Homo sapiens: one gene and its partners. The protein of the gene in region 5 purifies or fractionates together with the protein of the main gene of each other region. This does not show direct contact. Each region holds a gene or a part of one and is shown on either strand. Other genes may lie near its edges. The genes, in order: POLDIP2, CLIC4, MRPL23, NAPRT, NENF, TXNDC5 and SPTAN1.

Region 1 (3,500 bases), on a different chromosome or scaffold from region 5:
CACTCCGACCCTGACACTGGCCTCCCTCTCTGCATTTGGCAGAAGGTAAAGTGAACAAGAGTCCAGTCCAGCACCCCCGCCAACTAGCTGAGAGGCACAGTGACCCTAGGAGATGTCCAGCCAGCCTCCAGGCTGAGAGGGAAACAGGCACATGCCCTACCAGGGGGGCAGCTCCCTGGAAGGGCAGCAAAGAAAGCAGTCAAGGGCGCACACTGGGTCAGAAGGGGAGCCTGAGACTCTGGGAGCAGAAATGGCAAGGGTGGCCAAGCGTGCACTGGTTTACTGATCAAACCTCACGTGACAGGCCAGGAAACTCCTCCAGGCCTGTGGCAGCTGAACACAGTTCCTTGGTGGAGAGGTTTACTGGAACATGGTGTAGGCAGGGCTTATGAGGAGGCCAGCCTTGGAGGTGTCCCACATGGGTCTTCTGAAGAAAAGTTATACCACCCCTCCCCACAAAAAGAACCCCACAATCAAATTAAGAGACCCACTGTGGCCCATGATGGGGAGAGAAGAGTTCTGCAGCAATTGTGGGATGAGAGTTGTTCTTCCCGGTGACCAAGCCTGGGCACTTGGGGCCTCAGCTGGCCTACCAGTGAAGGCCTGAGGGTGGTGTCTTCTCATCTTTATTGCTTTCCAGGGAGAAGGGAGGAATCCGAACATCAAAGTGGGAGCCATCAGGTCTTTCAAAGCGGAACGTGCCCCTACAGTCAGAAAGAAGCTGGTTTAGAAGGAGCCAGGGCTGAGGCCTCCTAAGGATCTGGATGGCCCCATGCCCTCAGCTGCCAGCCACAGAGGACATGTGAGCCTGAGCTCTCTTCTATCTCTAGCTCATGACAGGATGACTGGTCCAGAGACCCAAGAGCCCCTCATGGTTATCCATGAAAAGAAAAACACAGCTGCAGTGGCTCACGCCTGAAATCCCAGCATTTTGGGAGGCTGATGCCAGCAGATCACCTGAGGTCACCTGAGGTGGGGAGTTTGAGACCAGCCTGACCAACATGGAGAAACCCCGTCTCCACTAAAAATACAAAATTAGCCGGGCGTGGTGGCGCATGCCTGTAATCCCAGCTACTCGGGAGGCTGAGGCAAGAGAATGGCTTGAACCTGGGAGGCGGAGGTTGCAGTGAGCCAAGATTGTGCCATTGCACTCCAGCCTGGGCAATAAGTGAAACTCCATCTCACAAAAGAAAAAAGGAAAACACAGCTGTCCAGATTCTGGCCTTTAGATACATACTGCATAAGCTAGCCAACTGCATTTTCAGGTAAAGGAGTGAAACACCAAGGGAAAAAACCCAACTATACAAGCAATTCTGCAGCATCAAATCACCAGACCTCTTTAGCCTAAGTCCTCAGTCCACAAATCACAGGGTACTGGGAAACAGGCGGTAATAGAAAATCAGACAAGTCCCACACAACAATATAGCAGATAAGGCTCCCTCTAAGAATGTAACTTGGCCCAGAGTTAATGGCAAGCTCTAAGCTCTCACTTTTCTGACCTACAGCTTCTGTTTGTGGAGCTGGGTGGCCCCTACTGCTGTGCACACTCACTCACCACATGTGCCCACTGGAAGCCTGCAGCGAGACGTGGCTGCTATACTGGAACGCAGGCTGCTCCTTGGATAACACTGGTTCCTGTAAAGGTTTAGGCAAAATGGGTCAGGCCAAGCCCCAGGGACATGTTTCCTGCACCCCAGGGTTACATGCTGACTGCCAGTTCATCAAGACTGGATGTCCCCTACCCAGCCACCACCACAGCAGGCACTCCCATAGCATGATACACTTCCTGCCAGTACCTCCTCCCATAGATGGCCATTTGGCTGGGCCTTTTATGCTGGCTCTGGGAAAGATAATCTCAGACTGAATGTCCGAAGGCACTGGGCAAAGGACCTCCTCTGCAGCCCGGGGAACACAGTGAGACCCCATCTCCACAAAAAAAAAAAAAAAAAAAAAAAAAATTTAAACTAACCAGGCATAGTGGTGTGTGCCTGTAGTCCTGCTACTCAGAAAGCTGAGGCGGAGGATTGCTTGAGCCCAGAAAAGTAAACTATGGTCGCACCACTGCACTCCAGCCTGGGTGACACAGCGAGACCCTGTCTCTAAAAACAAAGGACCTCCTGTGGAGATATCCCCTCCAGTGTCCATTCACACATGCTGGCGGGGACCACGGCAGGTACTCTGCAAACCTCTGCTGCTTTAATTCTCCTAATGATCATAAGATAACTGGTGTGATCCACATTTTAGGAGTAAGGAACTAAGATTTTGGTTAAATAACTTGCCGAAAGTTATGCTAATATATAACTCAGCTGGAATTTGAAGTGACTACCTAAATCCAAAGCCTTGTTCTTATTCACTTGCCCAACTGCCTCCCCAGTCCTCGCTGACTTTGATAAATGCTTGTTGAATGTGGCCCCTGACACCAGTACTGCTTGTGACTTTATTTCTCAGGAGACAGGGTTGGGTAGGCAGGGATTATAAAATCAGATCTCTTCAAGGACCAGCAGAGGATGTAAACATGTAAAGGGGCAAAGAGGCAAGACCACAGGGATTGGTGGGGGTGTGTGCCCCACCTAACGACATTCAAATTTTAGTTTTTAAAAGACACTATACCAGTTTTAAAAACTACACAAGTTTTGACTTCAGACTCACTTGGGTTTAAATTGAGGCCCTGCCACTACTAGCTATGGGACCATGGGCTGGTTATTTAACTTCTCAGTCTCACTCTTTTCATCTATGAAATGGGTTTCAAGAAACATATCTCATGTAGTTGTTTTAAGATTTCTAACCCAAAACAACACAATGTATTCACAAAGTGAGCCTCTGTCTATAACAACAAAGGAGAAGGAAGCCATGCGCTAAGCCCCCAGGCTTGCCACACAGGACCAGAATTACTAGACCAAGGATGCTCACCCTGCCCACTACCCCTCGGCCTCGCACTGTCTCCAAGGTGCCAGAGAGACTGAATATCCTCCAGTGCCGCTCCCGGAGCTGTACCACATCACTGTCAAGGTTCTCCAAACGGATACAGTAGCGCCACTGAGGTGGGTGTGGGAGAGAGAGTTTAAAAAAAATAAAATTTGGGTAACCCTCCTCAGAATTCTGTGCAAAGCAAAAGTCAACAAAGCTGACACATGCACTGCACAGGTTCCGCTCTCGTCAGAAGGTGGGCTCCCCCACCTCCACCCTGACCCCCAGGCACACCCCACAAGCTCCCCTTCTCCCAGACAGTGACACTCACCCAGTACACGTGGGAATTCTGGGCTTCCTAGGGAGAAAACAAAAAGAATTTAAGTCCCACAGGGCAAGACCAAGTGTGTTCCAATCAACATCTCTCCAGTGCAGTTGATGTATTCCAGGAAGGTTGCAGACAGACCAAGCTGAGAGTATCTGTGGGATAAGGGTGATAGCTGAACCATGGCCTACACACCCACAGGGAGGCAACATCCCTGTATCCACTCCTGGCCTCCCCACTCCTCATCCCTTCAAGATCACCAACAGAG
Region 2 (2,687 bases), about 190 Mb from region 5:
CCGCCACCACGCCCGGCTAATTTTTTGTATTTTTAGTAGAGACGAGGTTTCACCGTGTTAGCCAGGATGGTCTCGATCTCCTGACCTCGTGATCTGCCTGCCTCGGCCTCCCAAAGTGCTGGGATTACAGGCGTGAGCCACCGCGCCCGGCCATTTGTTAGCAAGTTTTTACAAATACCACTGCCTGACATTATTATGCTTATTTATACTTTTACCTGAACAAACTTGTTTCATCCCCTGCCCCACCTAATTGAGCTCTAGGAGAGCAGGAGCCTTGTCTGTTTTGTTCTACAGTACCTTGTTTCAGAGTAAACATTTTTAAACAGTTATTGACTCAAAGAGTCTGCTTCTCCTTGGGGACTTGAGTGGTTTTCCTTCTTACAGTATTCTCATCTCTTTTTTTCCCCCCCAAGCACTGGAGAGGGGTCTCCTGAAAACCCTGCAGAAACTGGATGAATATCTGAATTCTCCTCTCCCTGATGAAATTGATGAAAATAGTATGGAGGACATAAAGTTTTCTACACGTAAATTTCTGGATGGCAATGAAATGACATTAGCTGATTGCAACCTGCTGCCCAAACTGCATATTGTCAAGGTAGGTCTGTAGGGGTTGATGTCGCATTGCCATTACCTTGTATTGTATTTACTAAAGTGGCATTTCCTTTGTGCTCAAAACATTTCTGATTTTATATGACTAGTTGTTTAACTCAATGCTGTTTAGGCAATAGTTGAAGCACCCTAGAGTTAGTTAAATGGAAAATTATGTCTTAAAATTGAGGAATATAAGAAAGATGAATATTTTTTTTTCTGTGACTGCATACAAATTCAAAGATATAATGCGTGACTTTGAATTGGAGTTTGCCACACTGACTTATGTTATCAAATTCTGTTCTGTGATCACACCTTGCTTTCTCTATTGAAGGCAAAAAGTATTGAGCATTTATTATATGAGACACTGGGCTGGGCACATTGTTAAATAGAATAATAATAAGCGCTAGTTGTAAATAAAGACCTAAGATAACAAAAACAGATCTAAAATAGCATATGTGTGTTGTGAAGTATTTTCCAGTGATTATACTTGGCTGTCTTTCTGGATGTCCAAGGCAGTTATTTGCAGTCACTGTCACACTTCTAAATCCCTGGTGTAGCTTGCAGTCTTGGTCATTATTTAAAACTCTGGTTAGAATGATGGTGATGGACTTTTTTTCATATAGAAGCAGTTCTCAAAGATTTAGAGCATTAATTATTTGCTCCAAAATCAGAGATATGTCTAGTTTACAAGACGTGGAAATAAGTCTGTTAACTTTTGATCTCTTTGTATTTCAGGTGGTGGCCAAAAAATATCGCAACTTTGATATTCCAAAAGAAATGACTGGCATCTGGAGATACCTAACTAATGCATACAGTAGGGACGAGTTCACCAATACCTGTCCCAGTGATAAGGAGGTTGAAATAGCATATAGTGATGTAGCCAAAAGACTCACCAAGTAAAATCGCGTTTGTAAAAGAGATGTCTTCATGTCTTCCCCTAAGAATACGCTTTTCCTAACAGGCTACTCCTTCCTGTAGAGCAGAAATTGTATTTTGCACGAACATGCAGTTATTGAAGATTAGGATCAAGGATAGACAAGGTATAGTAGTTATCTTAAAATATACACTCCTAAGCAGTATTATTTTAAAATCCTTTACCCTGGCTACCTCCCCTACCCGGGTTCCCCTCTCTTTAATTTGGAGACACTCCACCACAAACTTTTCACTTTAGAGGTAGCTTGCCATCTCTCAGGAGCCCTCACCATTGTGTCCATTCACTGTGTATAGATGGCAGAACTTTTGAGGTGCAATGTTTAATTGTTAAAAATAGTAGCCACGACTTTATCAGGCAGCCCCAAACTGGTGCATAATGCATGGTACAAGAAATATTTATGTATTTTTTGGAATTTTGTAATATTTAGTAAGAGTATATGAAAGGATTGCTACTGTATCAGAAATATTGTTTCAATTTAGTCTATCCTGGATATGTACTAACGAATATTACCACCAGAGAAGAGAGCTTTCTACAAAAGTCACTACAGATTTTGCTATATTGCTTTGTAGATAGATTTTTACTTTTGCCTAAAAGCATTTATCCTTCATACCAATTGTAACATCTGACACCATGTAGAAGCTAAAAGTTTAGAGGGAGTGAGGGTTTTCTCAAGACCTTCCTCAAGCATTTTATCTTTAGAAGAGAAACTGATGGGCACCTGATACTCTGTCTAAATACGTTTGTTATATGTGTTTTGCCCTGTGCCATTCATTTGGAACTTTATTGCATTCTTTATTTTAAAAAGCTTGTTTTTACGTAATCATAGAGCTTGCTATTTGTACATCTGTTGAGCAACACTACATAACTGATTTTTAGTTGACTTAGCTATAGCAGTACAATGATTAGTAATGTAAAAATTAACACAGAAATTAACCTAAGGAATGAAGGGTGGGTTTGTCAAAATATCAAGTAAATTTTTGTTTCTAAAGTACATTTAATGTAGATGACCTAAAGAATGCGTTATCCATCCTATATAAAAGAAAGATAAAACACAGGTCACCAATTTTCTCATTTCACCCCATTTACCTTGTATAGAGGATTGTTCATTCCTTTGGGACTAAGTTATAGTTATGGTGAGTGTGTATTTACTGTAGTTTTGCCT
Region 3 (3,385 bases), on a different chromosome or scaffold from region 5:
CGGGTTCTTGCTGCCAACAGTGCCAAACCGAAACCCACAGGCGGGCCGGAGTTCCCTCACCAGGCCCCCTGAGGGCTGCTGCCCTGGCAGCCCCTCCCCAGAACTTCTGTCCAGGCCAGGCCGTTCTCTCACCCGGCGCCGCCCCGTGCTCACGCTGACCCCTCCATTCCTCCCGACGCCTCTGGGCTCAGGCTCTGAATGTGGGCGCTCAGAACTATCTTCTGGGTCTTTTCACCTGCGTGTCTCATTCCCCACCTGGCATGCAGCTCCGAGCCTGTGTGTGGCCCTCTCTGGCCAACCCGCCTCCCCAGCATGGGGCCACGTCTCAAGTCTGCCCACCCTCAGTTCCCCGTCAACTCAGAGACCAGACCCCGGCCGCGCCCACTGCCCAGACCCTGGGAAAGCGGAGCCAGGCCACGTGGCGCTCAGAGCTGGGGGGTGGCTGCTGCGTGTCTGGCACCCAGAGACCCAAGAGAAGAAGGAAGCAGAGCTTCCGGCTCTTTCTCCTGCAGCAAGACTTTTATTTAGGTGTCGGGACTGCTCTGCCACAGCTGCCCACCTGGGGCGCGTCCCTGCTGGCCGCCCCGTCACGGCCCGAACCAGCTGGGGATGCCGCCCCGCCGCGGGTCGCTGCTCTGCCACAGCTGCCCACCTGGGGCGCGTCCCTGCTGGCCACCCCGTCACAGCCCGAACCAGCTGGGGACGCCGCCCCGCCGCGGGTCGCTGCTCTGCCTCTGCTGCCTCTCCTCCTCGAGCATGCTGTAGAGGTCGTCGGCAGCGCTGCCTTCAGGGCTCTCGTCTTTCTCGGGAAACAGATCTGGGAACGTGAAGGTCTGTCCATGGGCCTAAGGGGGAGAACAAAGGCTCCAGCCAGAGCTGCAAAGACTCCTCAGCAGAGGGGTCTGTGGGGGAGCCTCATGCTTTCTGGCAGCCCCTTTCTGCCGGCGCCGGATTCAACTGCTCAGAGGTACCTCCCTGGGCCTCCTGGGGCAGCGTCCCTGCCTGGAATGTAAGCACCCCCACGGCCACCGGCCCCCGGCTGTCACGCTGCAGCAGAGGCCACAGCTCCAGGACAGGGCCGCTTTCCCCACCATTGTCTCTTTAGGGCCTGGTGTCTGCCCCCGCCCTGGGTGCACCCATTTACTAGCACGGGGCCACCTGGTTGGTGGGGGGCAGAAACAAGGCATGGAAAAACATGACACAAATCACGTCTGGTACCATGCTGAACCTGTCCATCCAAAATGCCTCAGGCTCTACTCACATTAAAGCTCCCCCTCCTCCCAGCCCAGAGCCTGGCAATTAAAGTGAACATCACGTACGAAGAAACATGCACGTGCGGCAGTTGATAAATCAGGACCGGCTCTGCCAATTAACTGGTCTTACATCTTCTGCTGAGAGTTCAGAATATGTCCGTGTCAGCCAAGCCCCAGCCCAGGCCACAGCATGTGGCTCGGGTTCACGAGAAGGAGGGGATACTGCTCCTTGGGGACCTAAGCAAATACAAGAAGCCATCTTAACTTGCTAATGATTACTAAGTGCTCCAAAGCTAAGAGGCAGAAAGAGCAGACCAGAGGAGAGGGAAGAGAAGAGGGAGGAGGAGTGAGGATGGCACCCGAATCTGGAACCCTTTAGTGAGTAAAATCAGTCAGGTACACTTGGCTCTTGCAGACCCTTTGTGTGTAAATAAATCTGGATGTGGGCAGGCAGCCAAGTATGATCTGAAACAGGCCCAGATCCCACCCTGCGAGGGAGGTGTATGCACCCTGATCCCTGGCGCAGAGCGCAGGGGCTGGCGGGGAGAGTGGCACTGCGTGCGCCGTAGCCGGCCTGCAGGAGGATTGCCTTACACAGCTCTGAACTTTGCGTCTTTTAAAATACCAAGGGGCAGTCGTTTACACGTGAGGCTGACTGCCCAGAATGGGAGATTCACCTTGACTATATGGAGGTGATTCTGCTAGTTTTCCGAGGCAAGGGGAACCCAAAATGACAGTTTAAAGCACAAACATGGCCATTTGTCACAGCTTCGGGAAGAAATGGGGAAAGGTGCTGAGAGAAAATCCGTTTCTTACAGGAGACAAACACCGTTTGGGGATGCCAAGCATGGTTTCCCAGGGGCTTCCCCTTTCTAGAAGAGTTCACCTTGTACCTAAAAAAAAAAAGCCCTTGATCCTTCCAAAAAGGAGAGAGACAGCTGATCGGGGTAAAGAACAGGAATGGAGAAAAATGTCCCAATGACAAGTAAACAAGGCAGCCCTGCCTTCAGGAATCCCAGGGCGCCCTGGGGGCTGCCGCCTGCCTGGACCTGGAGGCCGGAGCCCCGAGCACGGAGCTCGGCCCAGCTGGCGGCAGCGGTTTGTTCTGGAGTTGCCTCTCATGTCGTGCGCCCTTCATTCCTGCGCGCCCTTCATTCCCGCGCTGCTCAGCATCCACACAAGCCTCGGGGCAGCGGGCAGTCAATGGTCTTTTTGTTGTGTGGGTCACTGAGGCGCTGCTTTCAGCTCCCAGGACTTTGGGCCAAGGAGATGCTTATCAGGTTGTCGGAGAAAGAAATGTGGGACTCCCGCCACGTGGGACAGGGCCTTTCCACAGCGGCCAACTCCAAATAACGTGGATAATTTTACCTTTCCAATGCTCCCTCCCTGGGCTTTGCAATTAGCAGTGATTCTAAGCCCTGGCGCAGGGCCCAGGGGGACACGCTGAGCAAGGTCTCAGCAGACACGAGACAGGAAAGGGCCTTGAGAGTCCCCTCTGCGGGCAGACAGGGACCAACGGCCACGGCCCATTTCTAGGCTGTGCAAAGATGTGCTGGAGTTCAGGAAGGGGGGTGAGGACCCGTTACAAATTTTCATTCTGGAACAGGAGGATCCATGCCCAACTGGGACCCTTCAGGCTCCCAGTTGCCCTGCCCTGTCTCTGGCTGCCTGGACTTCACAGAGGGAGAACAACACGCGGGCAGCAGCTGCAGACACCGGATCCCGGAGCTGCTGGGTTCAGTTTTCATGGGAGGTGGGGCCCAGAGGAAGAACGCAAGGGCTCGGATGACTTGAATGCCACTTGTAACCGTAGCTGCCTCTGAAGTGCCCGTGGCGGTGCCGGCACACGGGATGTCCACCCACATGCCATGACAAAGACAGATGGGCCCGACTGACACTGAGCACACAGAGGCCTTTATGAGGCCAACGGCTGCTCTCCCCACCTGGATTGGCTGATTTCATGCACAGCAAATATCAGGCCAAATTATTCCGGGGGCCCCTGTTTAGAACAACAAATGTGACTGTTTTTCAGAAAAGCTGCCATGCTAACTTGGCCTTTTTCACAAACTGCCTCCTTAGCCCCACAACAGGCCGGCTGGCCCAGGAGGCGGTTTCCACCATCGTGTGACTGC
Region 4 (3,956 bases), on a different chromosome or scaffold from region 5:
GGAAGAGGGCGTTGAGCTGGCTGGTCCTTATCCCCCACCCAGCACCATCCCTCAGACCTGCCCCCACCTGGGCCCCCGACACTGTCCCTACCTTATAGACGCCACCCAGGGAAGGCTGTTGGGGGCAGGTGACCACACTGGTGCCAATGCCAATGACATTCACCTCACTGCCCTGGGTGGGGAAGGGGGTGGCCGTGAGCCCAGCTGCCCTGGGTGGGGAAGGGGGTGGCACTGCCCTGGGTGGGGAAGGAGGTGGCACTGCCCTGGGTGGGGAAGGGGGTGGCAGTGCCCTGGGTGGGGAAGGAGGTGCCAGTGCCCTAGGTGGGGAAGGAGGTGGCACTGCCCTGGGTGAAGGGGGTGGCAGTGCCCTGGGTGGGGAAGGGGGTGGCAGTGCCCTGGGTGGGGGAAGGAGGTGGCAGTGCCCTGGGTGGGGAAGGGGGTGGCAGTGCCCTGGGCGGGGAAGGAGGTGGCAATGAGCCCAGCCAGAACCTGCAGGGGCCCCCAGAGCCCCCCAGCCACCCTCCGCCTACCCACTCATCCACCCCACCTCCTGGGCCAGTCGGGCCAGCGCCTCCTCGTCAATGTTGTTGCTGACTACGATGAGGACTGACTCCAGCCAGGGCACCTGGAACCTGCCGCGTGGGTGGAGAAAGGGTGGGGGCCACCCCTCGGGTCTTCCTGATTCACCCTGGTGTCCCCCTGCTCCCCGCCCCGCCTCAGTCAAGGACACCTGTGCTCACCTTCTGCTTGGGAGCTCCTAGGGAGCCCCACCACTTACTTCCCTGCCACGGCCTGCAGTATCACCGCTGAAACTTCAGCAGAGTACCTCACTGTCCTTCCCTGCCCATTCCCAAACCCCGGGGATCTCCCACCAGGCACACCTCCTCCCCGGGAAACTCACTGGGCTGCAGCAGCTCGGAAGACCTTGCGGATCTCCTGAGCCTGCTGTAGCAGGTCACCACTGTCCAGCCTCACGCCCACTGCCCGGTAGCCCAGCTCTCCCAGGGCCAGGGCGACTGCTAGGAAGTTGGGGAGACCACTCCTGCAGAAATAGATAAGGGAGTCAGAGGCTGCTGAGGTTCTGCTGAGCCCACCCCTAAAGTGCCCGGGCTCACCTCCACACGCTGTAGGTGTCCAGGAGGCCCTGGAAGGCCCGGGGAAAAGCCAAGGCATAGGCCACAAAGGCTGCCCGCTCGCCTGGATGCGGCTCCTGCACCCCCAGCCCCAGGTGGGCACACACCTGCTCCAGCCACACCTGGGCTTTGGCCGCCAGGTCCACCCCAGGGCCCTCACCAGCTGCTGGCGCCAACATCTGTGGAACAGAGTCGGTGAAGAATGGGGGCCAGGAATGCAGGATGAGGCCTGGGAGCAGCCAGGGACACCCTAGTTTGAGAGCAAAGGTAATGCAGCCCGTGCCAGCTTCCTGGGACAGCACTGGGGTGACCTGCCTGGGTGGCACACCTCTCGCCAGGGCAAGGGCTGGCTTGGGGCCTGTCGCCTGGAGACAGCAGGGTTTAGAGGAGGGACTGACCGGGTCAGGGGGCACCTCGCTGCCTGAAAAGGAAGTGACGAAGGAGTGGGCCAGGGTCCCGGCCACCGGCACACCTCGCAGCTGGCCCGCTAGCACGTTGCTGCTGCTGTCGAAGCCTGGGGAGGAAGGCGGTGGGATTGGGGGACCTCGGGCCAAGATGGGGCTCCTCCTTCCCGGCCCTTGCCTTGCCCCGCACCAGACACTCACCGCCCAGGTAGCTGTAGGTGGAGGCTGTCAGGCCCCCATCGGGGCCCTGAGCCCGCCTCAGGCCCATCTCTAGCAGCCGCTTCTCTGGCCCTGCGATCAAGCGAAGCCGCGCTGCGTTGGTGGCCACCAGGCTGTGGGGAGCCAAGAGTCAGGGGGTCCCAGGGTGAGGATCACTAGGCCACCCAAGACGGCGGTTACCTGGGGCCTGGAACTTCCAACCTGGGAGCTCCACCCTCACCCAGCCCCTCCTTACACCCTGAAGAGTGGGGGCGGGAGGCCAGTCCTGGGACCCCTGGGCAGCCAGCCCCGCCGCCACAGTCCAGCACGGAGCCCCGGCGCTGGGGGCCCATCCCATGCCCACGCTCCCTGCCAGTGGCCCGCAGCCCACCTGGCGTAGCTGACCAGGCAGAGCAGCGGTGTCTCCAGCAGCTGCACCACCAGGAGCGGCCCGGACACCTGCAGGAGCGGCACCTGCGGGGAGAGAAGTCAGCTCCGCGCTCGGCCCAGCACCCCGTGGCCGCCGCGCCGCCCGCTTACCCCTACTCACTCCGGGGAAGGCGAGGGAGCCCTCGGGCAGGGCTCGCACCGTCACCTCGGAGCAGTCGAGGGCCCGAAGGTGCTCGAAGAACGCAGGATCCGTGTCTGGGGGCAGCACCGAGGCCAGGAACTGCACGTCTGGAAACGAGGTAACTGCGCTGAGACCAGCGCGGGGACAGACCGGTCGTGGGACATGGGGGGTTCCACGGGGGGACAAGGACTTCCACCGGCCATAGGTGGGGGTTTCTGCCGGGCGTGGGGGGCTCGTCGCGCGGACGGGGGACTACCGGCGTCCCGCAGGCGGAAGGCGCGCAGGAAGCGCACACAGTCGCGCAAGCCGGCGGCCAAGGCGAAGGCGCCGCCGAACGGGCAGCGGCGGAAGAAGAGCTCGAACTCGGCGGCGTCCCGCGCCCGGCCCGCGCGCCAATAGCCCAACGCCATGGTGGCCTGGTAGAGGTCAGTGAGCAGCGGCCGCGCCGCCGCGCGCGCCTCGGGGTCCTGCTCCGCCGCCATCCTGCTCCCGACGTCCGGACTCCGCCCCGCCCCGACCCCGTGACGCGCCCCGGCCTATGGCGCACTCCCTGTGGGGCTTATCGTGCCGTTTGGGAGCGGCACGGGACTCGATGGAGGACGGGTGGGGCTAATAGTATCGGCGCGCCGAGAGGGGCTGAAACAGCTGGACCCGGGATGGGGTGGGGGATGTCACCCAACTCCTCTCGGACCCCCCAACCCCACTCCAGGCCCAACGGCCTCTTTGGAGCGCAGCCCGGTCTTGGTCACCAGAGGTGCCCCCAGTCGCTCGTGTCTCTGCCCTTTGGCCGGGCAATGAGGTGCAGCTCAGGACTTGCCAGGCGGCGGAAAGGGTGGAGGACAGACCAGCCAGACTCCACCCCCACCGACCCAGAAGACAACCGCTGGCCAGCAGCCAGCTCCTGCCCTGGGCCTGGGGAGGGAGGCCAGAGGCTGCCTTAGTTAGAGCTTGAGCAGCCAGGCTAGGACGAGGCAGCCCAGATGGACGCAAATGTCGCTTGGAAAGAGCTTGGCACCCAGGAAAGGGCGGCGTGGGGCAGGGGGGCGCATGCCCACTGTCGGCTGGCACCAAAAGACCTTTTGTGGCTATGAAGGCCCAGTGTCCCTCAGTGGTGGCTTTTATGGGGTCCTGCAGTCCAAGCCCCACAGGAAACTTTCTAAAGGTTTGAGGGCAAAGTCAGGGGCCACTACCCAGGGAGAATCCATTCCCCTGTGGCTTGGGGCCCCGAGGACAGAGTCTGACCAGAAGTAATCAAGTAATTACACCCCATCCTCTTTCACCCCAATGCAAACACGGGTGGTCCAGGGGAGGGAGTGTGGCCACCCATGCTGACCACATACGGCTGTCAGGATGCTGAGGCACAGCTCCACAGAGCCCAGGCAGCCACGTTCTGGCCACCCCAGAACATCATGGGAGGGGCACAGTCCCTGGAGCAAGGGGCAGGGATTCCAGGAATGAATGAGGTGAGGGGAGGGCCGGGACAGCACATGACAAAGGGCATGGCAGCAGGGCCGGGTGCTACTGGGACTTCTTTCCTGGACAATTCCAGGCTTGCACGCTTGCTCCCATGGGGACAATGCCAACAGGAGGCAGAGTGGTGGGGTGGTGGCCTCTCCAGATAGTGACCTAACAGTTTCTGTTTCTGGCTTT
Region 5 (3,500 bases):
CAGACGTGTGCCACCATGCTTGGCTAATTTTTTTTTTTTTTGTATTTTTAGTAGAGATGGGGTTTCTCCATGTTGGTCAGGCTGGTCTTGAACTCCCAACGTGAGGTGATCTACCCGCCTCGGCCTCCCAAAGTGCTGGGATTACAGGCGTGAGCCACTGCACCCAGCAATCTCCTTTTTTTAACAGTAAAATTTTTATCTCCTCCTTAAACTACTTACTTGAAGGTGTAAGTGCGAAGAGGAAGTCATATTATAGGGGAAGAAAAGAATGTTTAGCATTTTTGAGGCCTCAGAGTGACATAGATACCTCATATGCCATGCAGAGGAATGGTCTTATCAGTAAACAGAGCGTGCTGTGGTGGTGAGTTCTGACCCAGTGTAGATGAACATCCATGGATAGCACAACCCCCAGGCACAGACTCTCAGGCCTGGGAAATGACAACTGAGAAGGTGGAGGGTGGGTGGAAGGCTTGGGAGTATAAATGCAGACACAGGAATAGAAGTGACACAGAAACAGCCAGGCATGGTGGCTCCCAGCACTTTGGGAGGCTGAGGTGGGCAGATGACTTGAGGTCAGGAGTTTGAGACCAGCCTGGCCAACATGGTGAAAACCTGTCTCTACTAAAAATACAAAAATTAGCCGGGTGTGGTGGCAGGTGCCTGTAATCCCAGCTACTGGGGAGGCTGAGGCAGAATTGCTTGAACCCGGGAGGCGGAGGTTGCAGTGAGCCAAGATCACACTACTGCACTCCAGCTTTGATGACAGAGCAAGACTCTGTCTCCAAAAAAAAAAAAAAAAAAATACAGACACACACACGCAAAACAAAACAAAATCAGCCACTGCACTCCAGCCTGGGTGACAGAGTGAGACTTTGTCTCAAAAACTAAACTAAAATAAAATAATCTTGTAAGGCAGTTATTACTATACCCATTTTGTAGGTGAAGAAACTGAGGCTTAGAGTTTACATAACCTGTCAATGGTTTCTCTGCTGGTAAATAAAAAGTCAGGATTCAGACTCATACCTGTCTGATTCTAAGCCTTTGCCCTTCCTAGGGCAATTCTTCCTTATTGAAAACTTGAATACCAATCTCTGGCCTGCAATCTGTAGACAGTGAAACCCTGCTATCATAACAGGTGTGTGACAAGGCAAAAGCTACCGGTGAACATGTGCAAGCAATATCTCTACCTATCAGGGCAATTTTGACAGGAGTTGAAGAAAACAAGCGCCAAAGAAAGGCACTCTGGAACACACTACCTTTTTTTCCTCTATTTTCAATTTTGTTCAACACACTCACTTTATAACCTGTTATCTACATAAGAGGTCCTCAAAATCACCTCTTCTGTACAACCCTTACTAGAATTACTGGGAGAATGGAGTTCTAAAGAAGCACCAAGGAGATGCTGTCCAGATTTTTTTTCTTTTTTAAAATAGAGACAAGGTCTCACTACGTTGCCCAGGCTGGTCTCAAACTCCTGGGCTTAAGCGATCTTTCCAGCTCGGCCTCCCAAACTGCTGGGACTACAGGTGTGAGCCACCACACCCCGCCCAGATTTTCAGCAAGCATTCGAAGAGGACTAATGTATACCAAAGATTTTTCTATTCCCATATGTGAATGATTTAGGGAGCCTTGGATCACTCTGAGGCCCTACAATGCCTAAAAGGAAAGAACTGGCTCTTGGTGCAGTAGATCCAGAACACAGTGTGGCTCTGTGAAAGACACTGACAGCCAGGACACCCATGCTTCACGGATTTCCCATCTGAAGCTGCCACTGGAGAAACTACGCAAATCCCTGTGTGGGTGTCTGAGCTCTCTCACCTTGAACCACACAGTGGGATGTGTGACTGATAGAGGCGGGTCTGCCTTGGCTCTCATCCAAGAAAGAAGGTTTTTTTATATCTAGTAGAAGCAAGTCACTCATTGCTAGATGTTTCAGAAAGCCTTGTTACACAGGTCCACAATCCCACAGCAGAAACTCTTGGGGGTCAGACATGTTTTCAATATGAAAATATGTCAGATTTTAGAAAGGTGTTATGGGGAACATACCATATATTATGCAATACCTCTAGGGAGGTCCAAGGCAACACCCATAATCAAGTATGTTAGTATTTCTCCAGTGAAACATGAACATTCACAGTAAATGGGATAAAGACTAACGTAGACTCATAGCAGCTCCAACAAGGTTCTGTCATCAAGTGATTTCAGATCAAGCTGGGTTTTTCTGTCAAATGACTTGTGAAAAACAAAAATGTCTAGGTTTCAGAGTTTATTAGATTTCTGTAGTGCATGAAAGGACCGTGGACCTGTTATAATGCCTCTTGCTTGTATCTTTAATAAGGTAATAAAAAATAATAGTAGCTAACATTTATTAAGACTTACGGTGCTAAGCCCTATTCCAGGCCTACGCTAAGCCTGTGCACACCACCATCTCATTTAATGCAGGCATTCACAAAACACCTGCTTAGAGTAGGAACTCTTTTTTTTTTTTTTTTTTTGGTAGAGGTGAGGTCTTGTTATGTTGCCTAGGCTGGTCTCAAACTCCTGGCTTCAAGCAATCCTCCTGCCTCGACCTCCCAAAGTGAGTGCTGGGATTACAGGTGTGAGCCACCACACTCAGCCAAGTAGGAACTCTTATTATAACCATTGTGATGATTTATTTTATGTGTCAATTTGCACAGGTTACTGTACCCAGTTATTCAATCAAATACTCACCTAGATATTGCTGTGCATCTACAATCAATTGGCTTTATATAAGGAAATAATCCCAGATAATCTGGGTGGGCCTAATCTCATAATCGAAAGACCTTAACAAGGCTGGGTACAGTGGCTTACGCCTGTAATCCCAGTACTTTGGAAGGCTGAGACGGGTGGATCACGAGGTCAGGAGTCCAAGACTAGCCTGGCCAAGATGGTGAAACCCTGTCTCTACTAAAAATACCAAAAGTAGCTGGGCATGGTGGTGGGCGCCTGTAATCCCAGCTACTCGGGAGGCTGAGGTAGAGAACTGCTTGAACATGGGAGGCGGAGGTTGCAGTGAGCTGAGATCACACCACTGCACTCCAGCCTGGGAAACAGAGCAAGACTCCGTCTCAAAAAAAAAAAAAAAAAAAAAGACCCATGGGCTACAGCATCTGCTCCTGCCTGAGGGCTTCCAGCCTGCCCCTTCTGATAGCCTGCTCTATGTATTTCCAATTTGCCCAGCCAGCCCCCGCTATCGTGTAAACCAATCCTTATGATAAACCATTTATCTATCTATATATAGTTGACCCTTGAACAACACAGGTTTGAACTGCATGGGTCCACTTATATGTGGGTTTTCTTCCACCTCTGCCACCCCTGAGATAGCAACACCAACCACTCCTCTTCCTTCTCAGGATGCAGACCTTTATAATGATCCACTTTCACTTAATAGTAAATATATTTTCTCTTCTTTATGATTTTCTTAGTAACACTTTCTTTTGTCTAGCTTACATTACTGTAAGAATTCAGTATATAATACA
Region 6 (2,886 bases), on a different chromosome or scaffold from region 5:
GACTTGCTGGCATGGCCCTTTCAGAAAGGAGGTTATGTTGAAATGATTCTTAGATTCAGCCACTGCATTTTATAATGCTGGCTTATGTGTGAAAAATGAGCGACTCGGGTATTTATGGCAAAGGCTACAGACCACTGGTCAATCATCAAGAGTCGCGGTGTGGGAAGCCCCACAGTCTATGGCGTGGGGTCTGTTACTTCACGGCCTTGTTACTCAGACAGCAAGGCCTGAAAACCTGCACTGAAACATGGATACTAACTACAAAGCGGGCGAAGAAGAATGCCTTCCCTTTGAGAGAGGATCTCTTTTGCTTCTCCAAACAAACAACTCAAAGGGACATAAAAACCACATTGTTGAGAAGATGAGAGCAGAGTGAGTTATCGTGGTTGAGGCACAGTTCCCTTGGGATCTGCCCCCATACTGAGAGCTCCCATAAGCATCCATCCAAGTACCCACCGAATACTTGCTGCAGATATTCCGTTCAGCAGTGCAGTCTACTTCGGCGATCTTGACCCCCGCCAGACCAGGGAATTCCTTTTTAGAGAGTTCCTCCCAAGTAGGAGCCAGAGTCTTACAATGACCACACCTAAGACGAGAAAAATGGCAGCTTCGTTGAAATCCTGGGTCGAGATCATTCACCTACACTCTGCTGCCAAGACAAGCTCTGTTTCTTCTGTATGGGACAGTCAACAATTGCCTAGAAATTTGTAAAATACCAAATTCTCCCACTGGGTGCACATTAACTCTTCCTCCTCCTATCCCAAATGAAGAACCCAAAAGTTGATCCAAGGTAGACTTTCAGATAATGTGACAGAAGCAAGCCAGTCTCAAAACAAGTTGAGATTCTGAGACCATTTCCATGCCATGGTGAACTGTGCTAACTGGTTTATGAAAGCACAGGAGCAGAGGAACAGGGAACAGGGCAGATGCCACACAATTTCTAAAAGGTCACTTGAATGCCAAAGACATTTTAGATTTGATTGCTTATGGTCTCACAATTTCAAAACCATTTTAAGGCCTCCTTGGTACTTCAGCGATGTGGGGTGAGCATCAAGGCCATGATTAAGTTTGGTTCAAACCCTCCCTTCTACCCGACTCTGTTCCCTTGTCTCTTCTGACCCCCTCCTGCCGTATGGATGGCTCCCCTTCAGCCAAAGGGGATCCTCCTTTTTGATACTTGATCTGTGGAGCTTTAGGTTTTTAAATGTTGCAAATGATTTGAAAGGCATTGCTATGGTTCGTTCAAGTCCTGTGCTTATTAACTTTTTACCCCTATGGTTAGTTTCTCAGGAACATGTGGAGTGTAACAAACAAGAAAAGTGACGCCTTTATCATGTTTAGATAAACAATCTACTGTTGTCCTAACACTCTGCTTTTCCAAATGGATTGTTTTATTTGTGAAGACAAAAAGTTACTCCCATTTTTCAGCTGAGGGAACTGGGGTTCAAAGGAATTAAAGGACATCCAAGTTTACTATACAGTCATTCACGGTAAGTCTTAGAACCAAGGTTGTCTGGATCTCACACTACCTGCAATCCATTTCTGCTCTGGTCTCCAAGACCACGTGGCATGCAGGTTCAGGAAACTGCGTAGCATACTGAATGGCTCTAACAGACTCTACTGGATTTCTCTACAAAAGAAATCCGAGTACTTAAAAGAACCGAGGAGCAAAGCTACATCATGACACTCATTGTTTAGCCAAAAAGAAAAGCCATCTATTTGGAAAAGTGCAGATACCACAAAACTGAATATGGCCATCATAATTTGCCTCCATTTTTATGTTTTCTCCAAAGTTGATATAACTTTAGCCTCATTCTCCATATATAATCAAAGTTGATATAACTGTAGCCTCATTCTCCATATATAATTAAGGCCATTGAAGTTTAAAATATTTGAATATAGGAGCATGATAACGGTTCCTTATTTCCTACAACATGACCTACATATAAATGTAACATGTGCCCAACATTGAGTCTGGAGGGGTGGCAGATGAGCTGAAAAACATGATGTGACTTAGTACACATGGACAAAGTAGTTTCTAATTAAACAGCCACTTACCATGGAGCATAAAACTTGATGAAGGTTATTCCTTCTGCAATGGTGTCATCGAAGTTATTTTCAGTGAGTGCCAACACAGTGCCCTTCAAGGGAGGAAAAAGCCACAGTTCAAGTACATCCCTTAAAGTTGAGCAGGGCCATGCTTTGGGATTGCAGATACACGAATCAGTAATTTTTTAAAAATGCAGTTACGTAGGCTCCAAGGTCACACAGAAATACCTACACAATCTGCATTTCATAGGCTACACACAAAGGGAGGCTGGCAGCCTCTGAAGGGCAGAGAGATCAATGCAAGTCCCTGGGTCCCAAGCCTGGGAGATGTGGTGAGGAGGTGGCTGGACACTGTACAGGGGATGAAGGTGGGGAGGGGGACTGTCTTTTGGGGATGAGGCAGGTTGAAAACTCTCCAGGGCGCTGTGGTGTGGACCAGGCAGCCCTGGGTGTCTGACACTTGAGTCTGCACCTCTAAGCCTGGAGTCTCCAGGATACCCACTGAAGTCTCATCCTCAGCCGCTTTTCTCACTGGCCACCCTATTCTCCTAGCACCCTTTGTGACATCCTCTCTATGCAACAGAAAGAACCTAGTTACAATAGCAAAGGCAATGATACCTGTTTTACATTGAACATAAAAATGGAAAGCAGCCTGTTCTAAGTCAATGTGAAAAACGCTGATGGAAGCTCTGGCTGGAGAATTTAAGGGAAAGGTGCTACATGGTAGTCTGCTTTAAAGCCATTCTCCCTTGACAGTTCTTTACAGAATGACGTCTATGTGTTTCTCCAAAAATGGATCTGCGATTCTCTCCTGAGAGCAGGAATGGGATGATTTAT
Region 7 (3,500 bases), on a different chromosome or scaffold from region 5:
TCCTTGTCAAAGTGTCTGCAGCACAAAGCCGAGGGCGGCTCAGCAGGCAGCCCTGCTGCCGAACACCCCCCACCCAGCCAGGGCGAGTAAGGCTGAACTCACTTAAACATCATGCTGAATTCTTTGAGGGCCTCCTCAGTCACACCTGTTGTGTTCCTGGAAGAAAAACAGAAATTAGGGAACAGACCCTCCACACAGCAGGTGACTGTGTCTTTTCCTCCCCCTGCTCTGGGCTGAGCCTGGCCCACAGCCCTCCCGGGTACCTGGCCTGGATCTGCTGCTCCAGGTTGTGCTGCATGCGCATGCCCAGCTGGTCCAGCTGGTCCCACTGCTGGGCGAGGCCCACGGTGCTGTGCTCCGTGTACTTGTTGTCCAGGATGAGGGCCTCCTCCATGGCGGCCCCCAGGTCCTCGATCTTTTTGAGCTGACTTCTCATGGCTCGGATTTCCTGGTGCTTGCGCTGCAGGGGTGGGGAGCACAGATGCTCAGACGGGGGCCCTCAGCTCAGTCACCAGCCCAGGAGCCACTTACTGCCCTCTGGTTCCTGCTCCAGGCCTGGCCTGAGACCTCGTAAAACAAGAACATTCTAGAATAGGAATAGTGGGATGGGGTGAAGCTGAAGAAATCCCAACCACCTCAATAGAGGGAGAGACTTTCAATGTGAGGGTTCCAAAGCAGCTGGTAGACCTGCCAGAGGGCAGTGCACGCCAAGGACAAGTACGGCGAGGACTCCAGGAAGCAGTGGCCAAAGATTTTTATAAATTTTTTTGAGATGGAGTCTCACTGTCGCCTAGGCTAGAGTGCAGTGGCGCAATCACGCTCACTGCAACCTCCCGGGTTCAAGTGATTCTCCTGCCTCAATCTCCTGAGTAGCTGGAACTAACAGGTGCCCATCACCACACCTGCCTAATTTTTGTATTTTTAGTAGAGGCGATGTTTCACTGCATTGACCAGGCTGGTCTTGAATTCCTAGGCTCAAGTGATCTGCCTGTCTTGGCCTCCCAAAGTTCTGGGATTATAGGCATGAGCCACTGCACCCAGCCTTATTTTTAAGACAAGGTCTTGCTATATATTGCCCATGCTGGACTTTGAGCAGGTGTAGGCCACCATGCCCAAGTAATTTTTTTCAGAGGGAGTTTTGCTCTTGTCACCCAGGCTGGAGTGCAATGGCCTGATCTCGGGTCACTGCAACCTCCGCATCCCAGAATCAAGTGATTCTCCTGCCTCAGCCTCCTGAGTAGCTGGGATTACAGGTGCCTGCCACCACACCCAGCTAATATTTTGTATTTTTAGTAGAGATGGGGTTTCCCCATGTTGGCCAGGCTGGTCTCGAACTCCTGACTTCAAGCAATCCACCCGCCTCGGCTTCCCAAAGTGCTGGGATTACAGGTGTAAGTCACCACACCCAGCCCCAAAGACTTTCTTTAAAGTGAAGAGCCCTCGGCCGGGAGTGGTGGCTCATGCTTGTAATCCCAGCACTTTGGGAGGCTGAGGTGGACAGATCACTGGAGATCAGGAGTTCCAGACCGGCCTGGCCAACAAGGCAAAACACTGTCTCTACTAAAAATATAAAAACTAGGCCAGATGTGGTGGCTCACGCTTGTAATCCCAGCACTTTGGGAGGCCGAGGCGGGCAGATCAGCCGAGGTCAGGAGTTCGAGACCAGCCTGCCTGGCCAACATGGTGAAACCCTGTCTCTACTAAAAATACAAAAATTACCCAGGTGTGGTGGTGGGCGCCTGTAATCCCAGCTACTTGGGAGGTTGAGGCAGGAGGATCACTTGAACCCAGGAGGTGGAGGTTGCAGTGAGCCAAGACCACGTCCATTGCACTCCAGCCTGGGCAACAAGAGTGAAACTCCATCTCAAAAGATAATTAAAAATAAACAAAAATTAGCCAAATGTGGTGGCACACATCTGTAGTACAGCTATTTGGGAGGCTGAGGCAGGAGAATTGCTTGACCTGGGAGGTGGAGGTTGCAGTGAGCCAATATCGCACCACTGCACTCCAGCCTGGGCGAGAGAGAGATTCCATGAAGAAAGAAAGAAAAGAGAGAGAGATAGTGAAGAGCCCTAGACTGCTTTAGGCCAAGGGAAAAGGGTACAATAATAGCACATCTGGTTCCTGACTTTAAGCCAGGAAGGGAAGGGGTACCCTGGGGGGTGGCTGGGTGAAGGGTCTCTGCTGGGCCAGAGCCCCACGGGCACTTACTTTGGTAGCTTCAAGCTGGGATTCGAGGGTCCCCGACTCTTCCACCATACAGGACCTAAACGTGGAAGGACAGTGAGGAAAGGGGCCTGCTCCCAGCTGGCCGAGAGCTCAGAATGAACCTTCTCTCAGAGAGAGCAATGCCTGGCAACCTCACATTCCTTTTAAGGAAACCAAACCTAACTGCAACTGGCCATCTTTACCTAATGGGCCCCAGGGATCGAGGGATGGCAGGGAGCATTTCTCCCGTTTTAGAGATGGGAAGCTGCTGCCTTGGTGTGGGCCAGGGCTGAGCCCACTCGTCTTGCTCCCAAGGCCAGGATGACTCAGGAATGGAGTTTAAATTCCCCCATGGGTGCAGGGTGGCTGCAGGCCTGTCTGAGCATCCTCTCTGCAGCCATGTGGGGGATGGCACACCCTGACACCTGACAGACAGGAGACCTCAGGGCAGAGGGGAGGCTGAGAACCTGACAGCCTCCCCACAGAAACCCTGGAGTGTCCCGGCAAGGTTCCTGAGGGAGGGAGCCCCATTCTAGGGGGAATGAGAGCACGACCCTGCAGACAAAGGACACAAGTGGAGTGCTGGGAGATCACGACCAACTGTGCCAAAAGGAGAGAGATGGCTGTGACTAAACCCCAGATCCCGGTTCCATCCTCTAGACACAGCCAGGGAGGGAGCCTCCTCTCTAGGACCAAGTTCTGAGAGCAGATGGGCTCTGGGGAGCCTCCTTCCCAAGAGAACACAGTGCCAGGTCACAGAGGCTACCAGTAAACAAAGACAACAAACGAGTTAGGGTTACGTGCAGGGACGAATCACACGGTGCGTGTGGCCTTGGTGGGGTTTTAGCCCAGGCTCCCCTGTACCCACATTCACCCCAACCTACCCTTTTAAAACCCGGCGAGCCAGGGTTAGCTCTGCAATCTCCCCAGGTTCAAAGTGCTCTAGCAAGGCAAGGCACCAGGCTTCCTCCTACCCCAGCAGGTCAGACTCACAGTCACGCCATGTCCCCCCGGGGAAAATGCCCCCCAGGACCTGGGGGCAGGAGGCTGGGTGCCGGTGCAGTGGGAGGACAGACCCCTCCTTCCCAAGCAGCCGAGGGCGGCAGGTTAGTCAGGGTGGAGCCGCCTGGGGATGTCAAGAGTGCATCAGTAAAGCCACAGTGAGGTAAGAAGAGAAATAAGGAGAAAAACCTTCCAGACAGATCATCCCCAACTTCATACTGATAGACACGAATGACCCGACGATATGCTATGCTATTCAAAGAAAAGAAACCAAATGAATACACCAAAGG

Evidence for each region.
Region 1: the proteins of NENF (region 5) and POLDIP2 fractionate together in Homo sapiens (co-fractionation; one large-scale study listed by BioGRID). This does not show direct contact.
Region 2: the proteins of NENF (region 5) and CLIC4 fractionate together in Homo sapiens (co-fractionation; one large-scale study listed by BioGRID). This does not show direct contact.
Region 3: the proteins of NENF (region 5) and MRPL23 fractionate together in Homo sapiens (co-fractionation; one large-scale study listed by BioGRID). This does not show direct contact.
Region 4: the proteins of NENF (region 5) and NAPRT fractionate together in Homo sapiens (co-fractionation; one large-scale study listed by BioGRID). This does not show direct contact.
Region 6: the proteins of NENF (region 5) and TXNDC5 fractionate together in Homo sapiens (co-fractionation; one large-scale study listed by BioGRID). This does not show direct contact.
Region 7: the proteins of NENF (region 5) and SPTAN1 fractionate together in Homo sapiens (co-fractionation; one large-scale study listed by BioGRID). This does not show direct contact.

What each region holds. Positions count from the first base shown.
Region 1 is NC_000017.11:28,347,528-28,351,027, forward strand, and holds part of POLDIP2 (polymerase delta-interacting protein 2), read right to left. Parts: intron 3,266-3,500; coding exon 3,239-3,265; intron 3,037-3,238; coding exon 2,911-3,036; intron 1,972-2,910; exon of another isoform or gene 1,636-1,971; coding exon 1,556-1,635; exon of another isoform or gene 1,506-1,555; intron 803-1,505; exon of another isoform or gene 705-802; coding exon 590-704; 3' UTR 1-589. UniProt on the Homo sapiens protein: Involved in DNA damage tolerance by regulating translesion synthesis (TLS) of templates carrying DNA damage lesions such as 8oxoG and abasic sites.
Region 2 is NC_000001.11:24,839,447-24,842,133, forward strand, and holds part of CLIC4 (chloride intracellular channel protein 4), read left to right. Parts: intron 1-413; coding exon 414-595; intron 596-1,326; coding exon 1,327-1,491; 3' UTR 1,492-2,687. UniProt on the Homo sapiens protein: In the soluble state, catalyzes glutaredoxin-like thiol disulfide exchange reactions with reduced glutathione as electron donor. Can insert into membranes and form voltage-dependent multi-ion conductive channels.
Region 3 is NC_000011.10:1,953,716-1,957,100, reverse strand, and holds the end of MRPL23 (large ribosomal subunit protein uL23m), read right to left. Parts: intron 1,491-3,385; coding exon of another isoform or gene 1,416-1,490; exon of another isoform or gene 1,320-1,415; intron 846-1,319; coding exon 681-845; 3' UTR 501-680; downstream 1-500.
Region 4 is NC_000008.11:143,575,531-143,579,486, forward strand, and holds the start of NAPRT (nicotinate phosphoribosyltransferase), read right to left. Parts: upstream 2,801-3,956; 5' UTR 2,789-2,800; coding exon 2,563-2,788; intron 2,414-2,562; coding exon 2,286-2,413; intron 2,210-2,285; coding exon 2,127-2,209; intron 1,870-2,126; coding exon 1,739-1,869; intron 1,648-1,738; coding exon 1,532-1,647; intron 1,313-1,531; coding exon 1,116-1,312; intron 1,043-1,115; coding exon 902-1,042; intron 633-901; coding exon 548-632; intron 173-547; coding exon 92-172; intron 1-91. UniProt on the Homo sapiens protein: Catalyzes the first step in the biosynthesis of NAD from nicotinic acid, the ATP-dependent synthesis of beta-nicotinate D-ribonucleotide from nicotinate and 5-phospho-D-ribose 1-phosphate.
Region 5 is NC_000001.11:212,435,920-212,439,419, reverse strand, and holds part of NENF (neudesin precursor), read right to left. Parts: intron 1-3,500. UniProt on the Homo sapiens protein: Acts as a neurotrophic factor in postnatal mature neurons enhancing neuronal survival. Promotes cell proliferation and neurogenesis in undifferentiated neural progenitor cells at the embryonic stage and inhibits differentiation of astrocytes.
Region 6 is NC_000006.12:7,883,903-7,886,788, forward strand, and holds part of TXNDC5 (thioredoxin domain-containing protein 5 isoform 1 precursor), read right to left. Parts: intron 2,142-2,886; coding exon 2,059-2,141; intron 587-2,058; coding exon 457-586; intron 1-456. UniProt on the Homo sapiens protein: Protein disulfide isomerase of the endoplasmic reticulum lumen involved in the formation of disulfide bonds in proteins. Can reduce insulin disulfide bonds.
Region 7 is NC_000009.12:128,629,087-128,632,586, reverse strand, and holds part of SPTAN1 (spectrin alpha chain, non-erythrocytic 1), read right to left. Parts: intron 3,463-3,500; coding exon of another isoform or gene 3,400-3,462; intron 2,267-3,399; coding exon 2,212-2,266; intron 461-2,211; coding exon 264-460; intron 157-263; coding exon 103-156; intron 16-102; coding exon 1-15. UniProt on the Homo sapiens protein: Fodrin, which seems to be involved in secretion, interacts with calmodulin in a calcium-dependent manner and is thus candidate for the calcium-dependent movement of the cytoskeleton at the membrane.